Regions from separate parts of the Homo sapiens genome. Here all the other regions are reported to be linked to region 3. The links are microRNA targets in miRTarBase. Many come from high-throughput screens and were not tested one by one. Region 3 holds a microRNA gene; each other region holds the end of a gene's coding sequence.

Region 1 (3,000 bases), not on the chromosome of region 3:
GGGGAGGCATGGACAAAGGAAGCATCCGCTGGAGACTCATGGTGAAGAGAACAAATGAAGTAACTGGCAGAAATTATAGGTCCTGGTAGAACAAAATAGAATCCCACAACGAGAACATACACCATGTATGTCCCGCAAGGAAGACAATAGCTCCTAAAAACACAAGAAAAATCATTTTGGGCAAACACCTTATATCCAGTAATGCGATCCATGTATCAAGACCGTGAGGAAGATTATTAAACATGCTAAACTCAGCGAGACCTGATTCCCTCATGAGGACTCTGTTAGGATGAGTACCACTCAGCAAGTGATGACTGTGACATTCACTTTTGAACAGCTCATGAGCATTAATATATTTAATTGTGGATCTAAACCAAAAACCAAGGTGTGGGCAAGATGACAACCACAGAATGTCACTGGTGTATGTTTAGGTTCAAATACGATTATGAGAAGTGGCAGGTAAAGGAGGTAGGAAAAAGAAAACACATCATGTAATTGACTGTCATATGGAAATATGTGATGTTGAAAGTCATAATTTAAAACGTATAAACCAAATATTAGAAGTGTGTCTAGTTCAAAGGGGGGAAAACTATGAAACATTTTTAGTCAATATCAAACATGAGCTACACAACCCTTCCTAAATGCCAGAGGCACACGCAGACACACACACACACACTCTCACAAAGAATATAAATATCTAGAACCAAGAAATGGAGTACATGCATTCTGCTACATATGGTAAACATAGCCTACAAGGTGGAAGAGATTAGAAAATAAACAGGGAAATGAAAATGTTTTTATTAATTCGCATCAGTACCCACCAAAACCAATCAGCATAACAAAAGATTATAACGCTGAATGTAAAAAACAATCCAACAGTCCAGAGTGATAGGCAAAAGTTTTTAATTGTATAGATTAAAATAACTTTGGACAAAAATTAAAACTCAGGCAGAGAATGTTTTTTTTTCAACAACACACACTAGCAAAAACAAAGGCACAGTAAACATTGAGGCAGCAAATTTCCAGCGTAGAGATATGAATATAATAATAGACACAGGCAGGGATGATTAATAAATGATAAAACGTTTAGAGGATGATCACTGGAATACAGGACATTTCTACTTTGAAAAACCACTCTCCCAAATACTTCATCATAAGTAAGGTGTCTCTAAAAGGGACAGATCTCCTAGACCCCTCCTTAACCAAGTAACCAGTCCTGATATCATGATAATGCTGATGGACAAACTAGACCTTCTCTGCCCACAGATGGGCTGAGGTTGGAAACTCACAGTATCGACTCTGTAGTGTTCTTGATGAAACGTTTAGGCTGAATTTAATCATGAAGACATTTTCAGACAACTTCAGAATGTAGACCATTGAGCCAGACAGCTGACCTGTCCTCTACAAACAAGTCCATGTCACCAAAATCAATGACAACAACAAAAAGATGAGGAAATATTTGGGGTTCAAAATAACTAAAGAAATGTAGCTACATTATCATTTACTTCTTCTGAACCCAAAATATCTCTCCTCCTTTTTGTTGTGTGATTCGTGGTGACGTGGACTGTGTGAAGGAGACAGGTCAGTTGTCCTGCTCAGTGTTCTACATTCTGCAGTTGTCTGGTGATTACCTCCTATGAAACTCAGGCTAAGCATTTTCTGCAAGAACATGGCATTGTTCATATTCTGCACTGGCAGAGTCCCAGGTGACATGCTGTCTCTTGCCAGCGGCTCCTGACTCCTGTTCTTTACAGGATGGAATTGAAAGGAGCAGGACTAAGGCCTCCCAATGCTGTTTGTCCGTCTAGCTGTGGTCTTCCTAAGTATTGATATCAATTGGAGGCTGAAGGACTATGGCTTCTCTACTCAAAGGAGCCTAGTGGGTTAACAACTGTCAAGAGCAGTCAGTGGTTCTGAAATACAATCCTCAGCCAAGGATCCCTCCTGTGTTACAGATGGATCAGCTAAAACAAACCAACACTGAAGATACAAAGAATGGGGTTAGGTTCAATGAAACCAGGGTAACACCTTTGGATGAGCTAAACACAAAGATGACACTGACCTTGAGCAGGTATAGAAGCTCAGAGACATGCCTGCAAAATGAAACCCCTGAGGAACTTTGTAGCTACCCAGAGATATCTGGTTCAAATTAGAATGTCTGGCAGATCACTCCCGGCATGTGCTACATAGTCGTGTGAACGTGTCACACCTAACTTGGGTCCAACGTCTTCAGACTGAGCACAGGTGGCCACTGGCATGGTCTGAGAATAGGAATAGAGCCATGCCCACTTTCCCATCCTATGACTGGGCTTCCAAAGGGAACTACAGTTTCATTCAAACCTACATGTGCCTATACGTCCTGCCTGCAGCAATGACATCTCTCAGCTTAGTAAGGGCTGCTTAGTGTGGGAATATGACTCCCATCTGGAAGGCCAGGTGGTGCCTTATCACTGTCAAAGTAAAAAACCTATTGTCCACGTCAAGGGCCAAGCTGACGTCCTGTTCCTCAAATGAGTAAAAGGCACTTCTATACTGCTGGAATGAGGCATGTAGTTGAAAGTAAGTTGAAGTAGTCGAATAACATCTATCCAGTGAGTCCTGCAAGACTTCAGGCTCTTCTGCTTCCATCAGCACCTCGTTGAGCCTGGAAAAGGAGACAAAACTAAAGAAGCAGCCAGGGAAAATCAGACACCACAGAGCCCCAACTAGATTTCAGGGGTAACATAAGGAAGTGGTCAAAAAAGGAAAAGGATAGTTCCATTAATGAGGTAAAAAAATTATTGCCTTTATGTTGGGATAGAACAGGGCCAAGTAGAAAACAATGAAAGAGAAAGACAGAGAGTGAGAGAGAGAGACAGAGAGAGAGAGAAAGTGAGCTCAGTGAATTGGCCAGGTGACACATTGATGAGGGAGTAAAAGGACACTGTGAGTTAGTGCCCTCAGGACACACAGCAAACAGTGATCATGAGAAGAGTGAGCTCAATAGTTTTCCATCAAGTG
Region 2 (3,000 bases), not on the chromosome of region 3:
CTAGCCCTAGCACACACATAATAAAAGATGTTCCATCGCTAAGATAATAAGCCCCTGTATTCCCAAGCAACATCTCACTTTCAGGCAAACAATGGTCTAGCAATCAAGCATTAAGGCACACACCGCATGTCACCTTGCACAGGTTAATCTCTTTCAGATTTCTTTAAAGGGATAGTAATTGTGCCTATTTCATAGAGTTGCTGTGAAAATTAAAGAACATAATTTATGTAAGGTGACTAACATGGGGTAAACCTTCACTAGCTTTCAATTGATATTAATCCAAAGTTCAGCACACCTTAATTTCTGTTTTACATTGAAATGAACACATGCAGCTTTTCCTCACAGTATGATTTTATCCTATGTGTATTTTTCTTCTTTCTCTTTCTGTTGGTTCTAGGTCAAGTCTGGATGATTACTGTCCTTCTGACCAAGTTGACACTATTCAAGAAAAGGTCCTCAATATGCTACGTGCCCTCTATGGAAATCTAGACCTCCAAGTGTATGCAGCAGAGTCTCCTCCATCTTGAAACAAACAAAACATTAGGCTCCTGTTGTATCTTGGTTTAGTAACAGGCCCTTAATTAACTTATTTGTACATGAGTCTTCCAGAGAACACTGTTTTATATTAACTTTCAGTTGAAATCTTTCAGATATTTTGAATCTCTGAACAACCATTGTCAGTTGTGAATGATGGTAAATTTTTTGGCATCAAGTCTCATAACCCCAACTGATAGAACTGTTGCTTATCTGTCTTCCTTAAGTATTTTTTAGGGTTTTGTTTTTTTTTTTGTTTGTTTGTTTGTTTGTCTTCACTTTTCCCCCAGGTCTGTTGAGCTGTATGAGATTCATTCATACTTCATTTATTCATTCAACTAATATTTGTTGAACACTTACATGTACCAGACATTATTAAGTGCTGGGTATATGGTAATGAACAGAATAGACAAGGCCCCTGCCCTTTTAGGGGAGACAGATGAGAAGTAAATTACGGGTTATGAGAAATGTTATGAAGGAAAGGACAACAACAGACATGTCTTAGTACTTAGGGTATCATGGCTTTATAGGAAAGTAACATTCTCTATCTTTTTTTTTTTTTTTAATTTTATAAAAATAGAGATGGGGTCTCACCATGTTACCCAGGCTGGTCTCAAACTCCTGGGCACAAGCAATCCACCTGCCTTCGCCTCCCGAAGTGCTGGGATTACAGATGTAAGTCACTACCCCAGCCAGAAACTAACATTCTCAAAAGCTACTACCAAAAAAACCCCACAAATTTGCCAATCCATGAAAGTATCATAGGAAGTCTACCTTTCCAAGGAATTTGGCATTGTGGCCCTGCTCTTGCCAAATGCTCTCCAGCATTGTTGGTATCAAGGTGGTCTGGTTGAGTAAACTTGACCAAACAAAAATTAACTGTTTTTTGCTTTTCTGTTTTTGTTTTGCTGATCAAAAAAGCCCTTCAGGGTCTCTTGTGCATCCAGGAGGTCATTGTAGATATCAATAATATAGTGCCTAAGTGCCACTTTATTGCCAAGTCTAGATTGATACTTTTTTCAGATAAACCAGCTTTTTATGTAAAGAGTAAGGGAAAAAGTTAAATCTTTAATTCTGACCTGCCATAAATACCCAAAGATATAAACTGTCTTCCACCACCCCCCTCATAACTAAGACATCCTTCCTGAGTCACTCTTAATCATGAAACTTGATTTTCTCAATTGGCCAGTCTTCTGATCTTTAGTATCTCTTTAGTTCAGTAATTTTTACCTACCTACTTGATTTATTTTCCTTTAAAAGGTGAAATGACATTTAAAGAAAAACAAACACCCATCATTCCTCAGTCCCAACACAGCAGTTCTTTTCACTCTTGCTTGTAACTTTCAGGCCTTACCCACATGTGTTCCTATAGAGTTGCATGTAGCTAAAATTATAGTGTGCTGCCTAACTTTGTGCTAATAACGAAGGACACACATTATCATTGCCTCACAGTGGATGGCACCTGACCCCATTTTTCCAAGGATTCTATTTTCCAGTGAATTTTTGTCACCGAGTTAATTTCCCAAGTCTGATAGCATGAATGCTTATTTGTGCTGTGAAAAGCAGAGCAGCCTGACTCAGCTTTCCATTTTCATAGGATAATATGTGCCAAAAAAGGTTTATTTTCTTGGTAAAATCAGAATTGTAGAATTGTGCTATTTTTAATTTTTAAAATTTTTGGTTAGAGCTTATAGACATTACTTTTATGATTATTTTGCGTGCTAAATAAGTTAAAGGGTATGTTTTGAACTATAGCACTAATTAATGTGTGTGATCCTAGTATGTTGATAGCTTTGATTTTGTGAGTGGTTTACTAGTCATTTATTATGATTCCCATGAACTCTGATATGATTCATTGTGGTTTTAACTCAGGTTGAATAAAAGCATCCATTTCTTTTATAGGAAGGTTTGTTTAATTCTCATGTTCTGTGATCATCTCTTTGAGAATAAAATTCAGTCCCTAATAGTTGAAAAGAATCAACTTAGTAAATTATGTCTTGCACATTCCAAATAGGAAGGTATTTACTTTATCAAGATGTGTTTCATTTGTGTTCTGAGTACCAGTGAGGGGATACCGTGGTACAGTGTTTTGAATTGTGTACTAATATCATTAAAGCATGGGATTTTAGTGGCTTTTTAAAAAATGTGACTTAAGTGTAAGCGTAGACTTTAACTTAATAAGTTGTGTATTTCCTAGTATCTACGGGGAAAAAATTTAAGTCCAGCCTTTCATAATAACCTTTTGACTGTCAATTTTAGATCTCTTTAGAAACATTTCCTATAGTTGGCCATGCGCGGTGGCTCACGCCTGTAATCCCAGCACTTTGGGAGACCGAGGTGGGCGGATCACGAGGTTAGGAGATCGAGACCATACTGGTTAACACGGTGAAACCCCGTCTCCACCAAAAATACAAAAAAAAAAAAAATTCTCCAGGCGTGTAGGCAAGCACCCGTAGTCCCAGCTAC
Region 3 (3,354 bases):
GGACTTGTGTGAAGATGGATCAGGTGTGAGGGGTGATTTGGGTTTTATATTGTAAAGCATGGACAGTACTGGATGAAGGAAGACTCCTTTAAGAAATGATTGTCAATACCCATGCACTGGGGTGAACAGACAATAGCCAAAACAGGAGATGGGCGGGTTCAGGAGGCATTAGACTTCTCTGCATCTTCTTGGTACTTGGTATAGGATGACTGCCCACCAGACCTTTGCCGAATGACTTTATTCACAGACTCTGTGAGATCGTGGTCCCTCTAGTTTATTGGTGGTGAAGAGAACAGGCAACCTGGGGCGGGCGAGGCCCAGTGATTGCCTGTGCCTCTTAGGAAGAGAGCTGTTCAGGTCTGTCTCTGACCTTTCCACCAACCCCCAATTCATCCTCAGCAGCTTACTGGGAACTCTAGAAAATTCTCAAGTCGACCTAGGGGAAATCCACAGTCTTTGAATGGAATATACGTGAGGGAGGAAGGGTGAGAGGCAGTGGTGAGTAGCCTGGGTTGATGACTTCCTCCTTCCTCTGTGAAGTCTAGACAGAGGTACAGGCGCATGGCAGGGGGCGACATAGTTTTGCTTTCTGCTTCTGCCAGTCTTCCAGTCATGCCTCCATCAGTCAATCAGTACCTTATGAGGACAGCAAGGGACAAAAGGTAACAAAGTCCCTGGTTTTAGATCCCTGGAGGCAGCCAGACTCGGCAGGGACAGTTGTGGCAATCCCGGCGGGAGCCTGAGTGTGGGGTACACCCCCACAGCAACCAGAGAAATAAGCTCTTCCTCTAATCTGGGTTGGATGCCAAGAAAGAACCCTCACAGTCAGATGATTTGGGTTTGAAGTCTGGTCTTGGCTGCTAACTGGCAGTATAACCTTGGCAAGTCTCGACCTCTGTGCAGCTTAGTTTCTTCGACGGAAAACATTTGAACACATTATAGCGGTCCTAAGGGGGAAGCCTGGGCTCATTTTGTTCTTCCTGAAGAGGATAAGGCCCCACGTGTCATTCTGGAGATGGGTTTTGGGAACTTGGTTGTGAGGTGCTCTGGCTACTGGCTTGGGTAGGGGTAGAAAGGGTGAGGTGAAGTTTCCTCTAGGAATCTTAACTTCTTCTTTTTAAAAAGTTTTATTTATGATTGACATATAATAATTGTACATACTTATAGGGTACAGTGTGATGTTTCAATGCATGTATACATAGTATAATGATCAAATTGGGTAATTAGCATATCCATCACTGTAAATATTTATAATTTATTTGTGATGAGAATATTCAAAATCCTCTCTTCTAGTTATCGTGAAATATACAATGCATTATTGTTAGCTATAGTCACCATACTGTGTAATAGAACACCAGAACTTATTTTTCCTAACTGTAACTTTATACTTTGTTGATCAATCTCTCTTCGTATACCTCTCTCCCACTTCCCCTAAGGGTTACTCTGGTAACCATCATTCTACTCCCCATTTCTATGAAGTCAAGTTTTTTAGATTCCACATAGGAATGAGATCATGTGGTATTTGTCTTTCTGTGCCTTGCTTATATCACTTAGCATAATGACCTCCAGGATCATCTATGTTACCATAAATGGCAGGATTTCATCCTGTTGTATGGCCAAGTGTAAGGAATCTCACCTCCTGATCAGGGGTCTGAAGAAGAAAAAGAAAAGGAAAAATGTACTTGCAGATTTTAGTTCTGAAATACCAACCTTGAGCAAGAACCCACCAACTTCGGCCTGATACCTACCCTCTCTGCCTTCATGAACTGGGTCTAGCTTGGAGCCTTGGTAGGGAAGCAAGCTGAGGAGATAGGAGGACAAGTTGTGGGATGGGGCTGGGTCACAGGTGGAGTGTCTGCAACACCCTCATTAGGATAGAGAAGAATTTTTTCTTACCTGGAACATGGGTTAGGACAATAGAGAGAGAGAGAGAGAGAGAGAGAGAGAGAGAGAGGGATCAAAAAGAGAATTGCGAATATTTGGAGGCTGGTATCTGTGCACCCAACAAGGTGAGGAGAGGCCACATCCTCAAGGGCACGTCTTTGTCCTGAGAAATTAGGTTCTGAAGGCAGTGGAGCTCCTGAGGCTCTTTCAATTAGGTGGCAGGGTGGGGTAGGGTTGGTCAAGGTTCGCAGGGTTTAGGTGTCTCAGAGGACCCTGCAGCCATCTAGGCAAGATTTGGTTTGCCTAAAGAGGTTAGGGTTTAGAGGGTTTGAACAGCTGGCAGCTATAGGAAAGGGAGGGGGTAATGGACCTGAATGGCAAAAGTCAATCTGATTTTTAAAAATTGGGCTGTCTTCCTCTATTGAGGTGTTCATCTGCCTCTCTTAATCCAAGTCATAGAAGCACAGAGCCAGAAGAGGACCTAGAGATCATGTGGCCCAAACCCCACTCTGTTACACATTTAGGGAAAACTGAGGCCCAGTGGAGGGACCTGCCTCAGCCTCATGAGGCATAGGATGAATCTAGAGGTTAAATCTATCTGCCTGTGGCCCTGTATCTGAGGGGTACCTCCTTTCCAGTTCCTGAAAAAGAGCAAGGGTCCCATAGGTGGGAGTGAGTCCAAGTTAGGCCTGGGCATGGGAAGTGGGGAGTTTGATGCTGACCTAAGTCACTGACCTTGCAATGCTATGAAGGTGTTCCCTTGATGCTTCTGCTAAGAATGAGATCCAGACTCCATTTTAAAAGGTCACTTTTCTAGAAAGCCCCCATAGCACTTTAGCTCTGTATAAGGAATAGCAATGAAAAATATGAGTTTGAACTTGTAAAATGACCACCTAGAAATGCAAACTGAGATCTGTTAGAAACTTCCTGAAAAGCAATCTAGGAATTGAAACATGATGGCTGTCTAACTACCCCAAGCTAGAAAAGCCAAGAATTTCAAAGGGATACCTTAGCACCTGTCATGGCAGACTTAGCTTTGGAAAATAAATTCTGAAAGCTAGGTGACCAATGGCAATTGAAGGTACCTGAAATAGTGCTTGGGATGCAAAAACAAATCCAGGCTAGTGTGTGGTTTGTGATGTTAGAAATACTTGTTTTTCGGTGTTATAAAGAAATAGTACTTGAAAATACATTTAATTTTTTAGTAAGGACATTTTTATTTTTTGTAGAAATGGTATATTTGTCAGTAGTTTTGTCATGAGAGTATACTGAACAAAGGAGACAGGGTCATTTATAACCTGACGTGTCCACCTTACTGCTGTGTCTGGTTTTTATTGGCTGGAACAGGACTTTATATTTTATATTTGTTTTGATTGGTTAGTAACTTAGAACTTTTTAAAAGAGGCAAAGACAGAGGAGAACAAAAGAAGGAGGAAGTAACTTGTAGAATGTCCAGAAGGGTAAAAACAT

What was found. Region 3 holds the annotated microRNA hsa-miR-7154-5p (UUCAUGAACUGGGUCUAGCUUGG, at 1,759-1,781, shown strand). A microRNA usually pairs through its seed, bases 2 to 8, with sites in the 3' UTR of a target mRNA and lowers its output. Matches are read on the target gene's strand: a 7mer-m8 pairs with bases 2 to 8, a 7mer-A1 pairs with bases 2 to 7 and ends in A, and an 8mer does both.
Region 1: the mRNA of NBPF3 is a reported target of hsa-miR-7154-5p. Seed matches in the 3' UTR shown: 7mer-m8 at 1,338-1,344.
Region 2: miRTarBase lists C5orf22 as a target of hsa-miR-7154-5p. Seed matches in the 3' UTR shown: 7mer-A1 at 1,694-1,700.

The regions. Positions count from the first base shown.
Region 1 is chr1:21,482,787-21,485,786 of GRCh38, reverse strand. NBPF3 (NBPF member 3) reads right to left here. Exons shown (of 15, transcript NM_032264.6): 15 at 887-2,644. The coding sequence ends at 2,401. Among named protein-coding and RNA genes, the nearest start is that of ALPL, 25 kb to the left of the region's middle.
Region 2 is chr5:31,552,376-31,555,375 of GRCh38, forward strand. C5orf22 (chromosome 5 open reading frame 22) reads left to right here. Exons shown (of 9, transcript NM_018356.3): 9 at 398-2,678. The coding sequence ends at 527. Among named protein-coding and RNA genes, the nearest start is that of C5orf22, 22 kb to the left of the region's middle.
Region 3 is chr11:45,690,181-45,693,534 of GRCh38, reverse strand. It overlaps MIR7154 (microRNA 7154), which reads left to right and starts at 1,759; the gene lies at 1,759-1,831.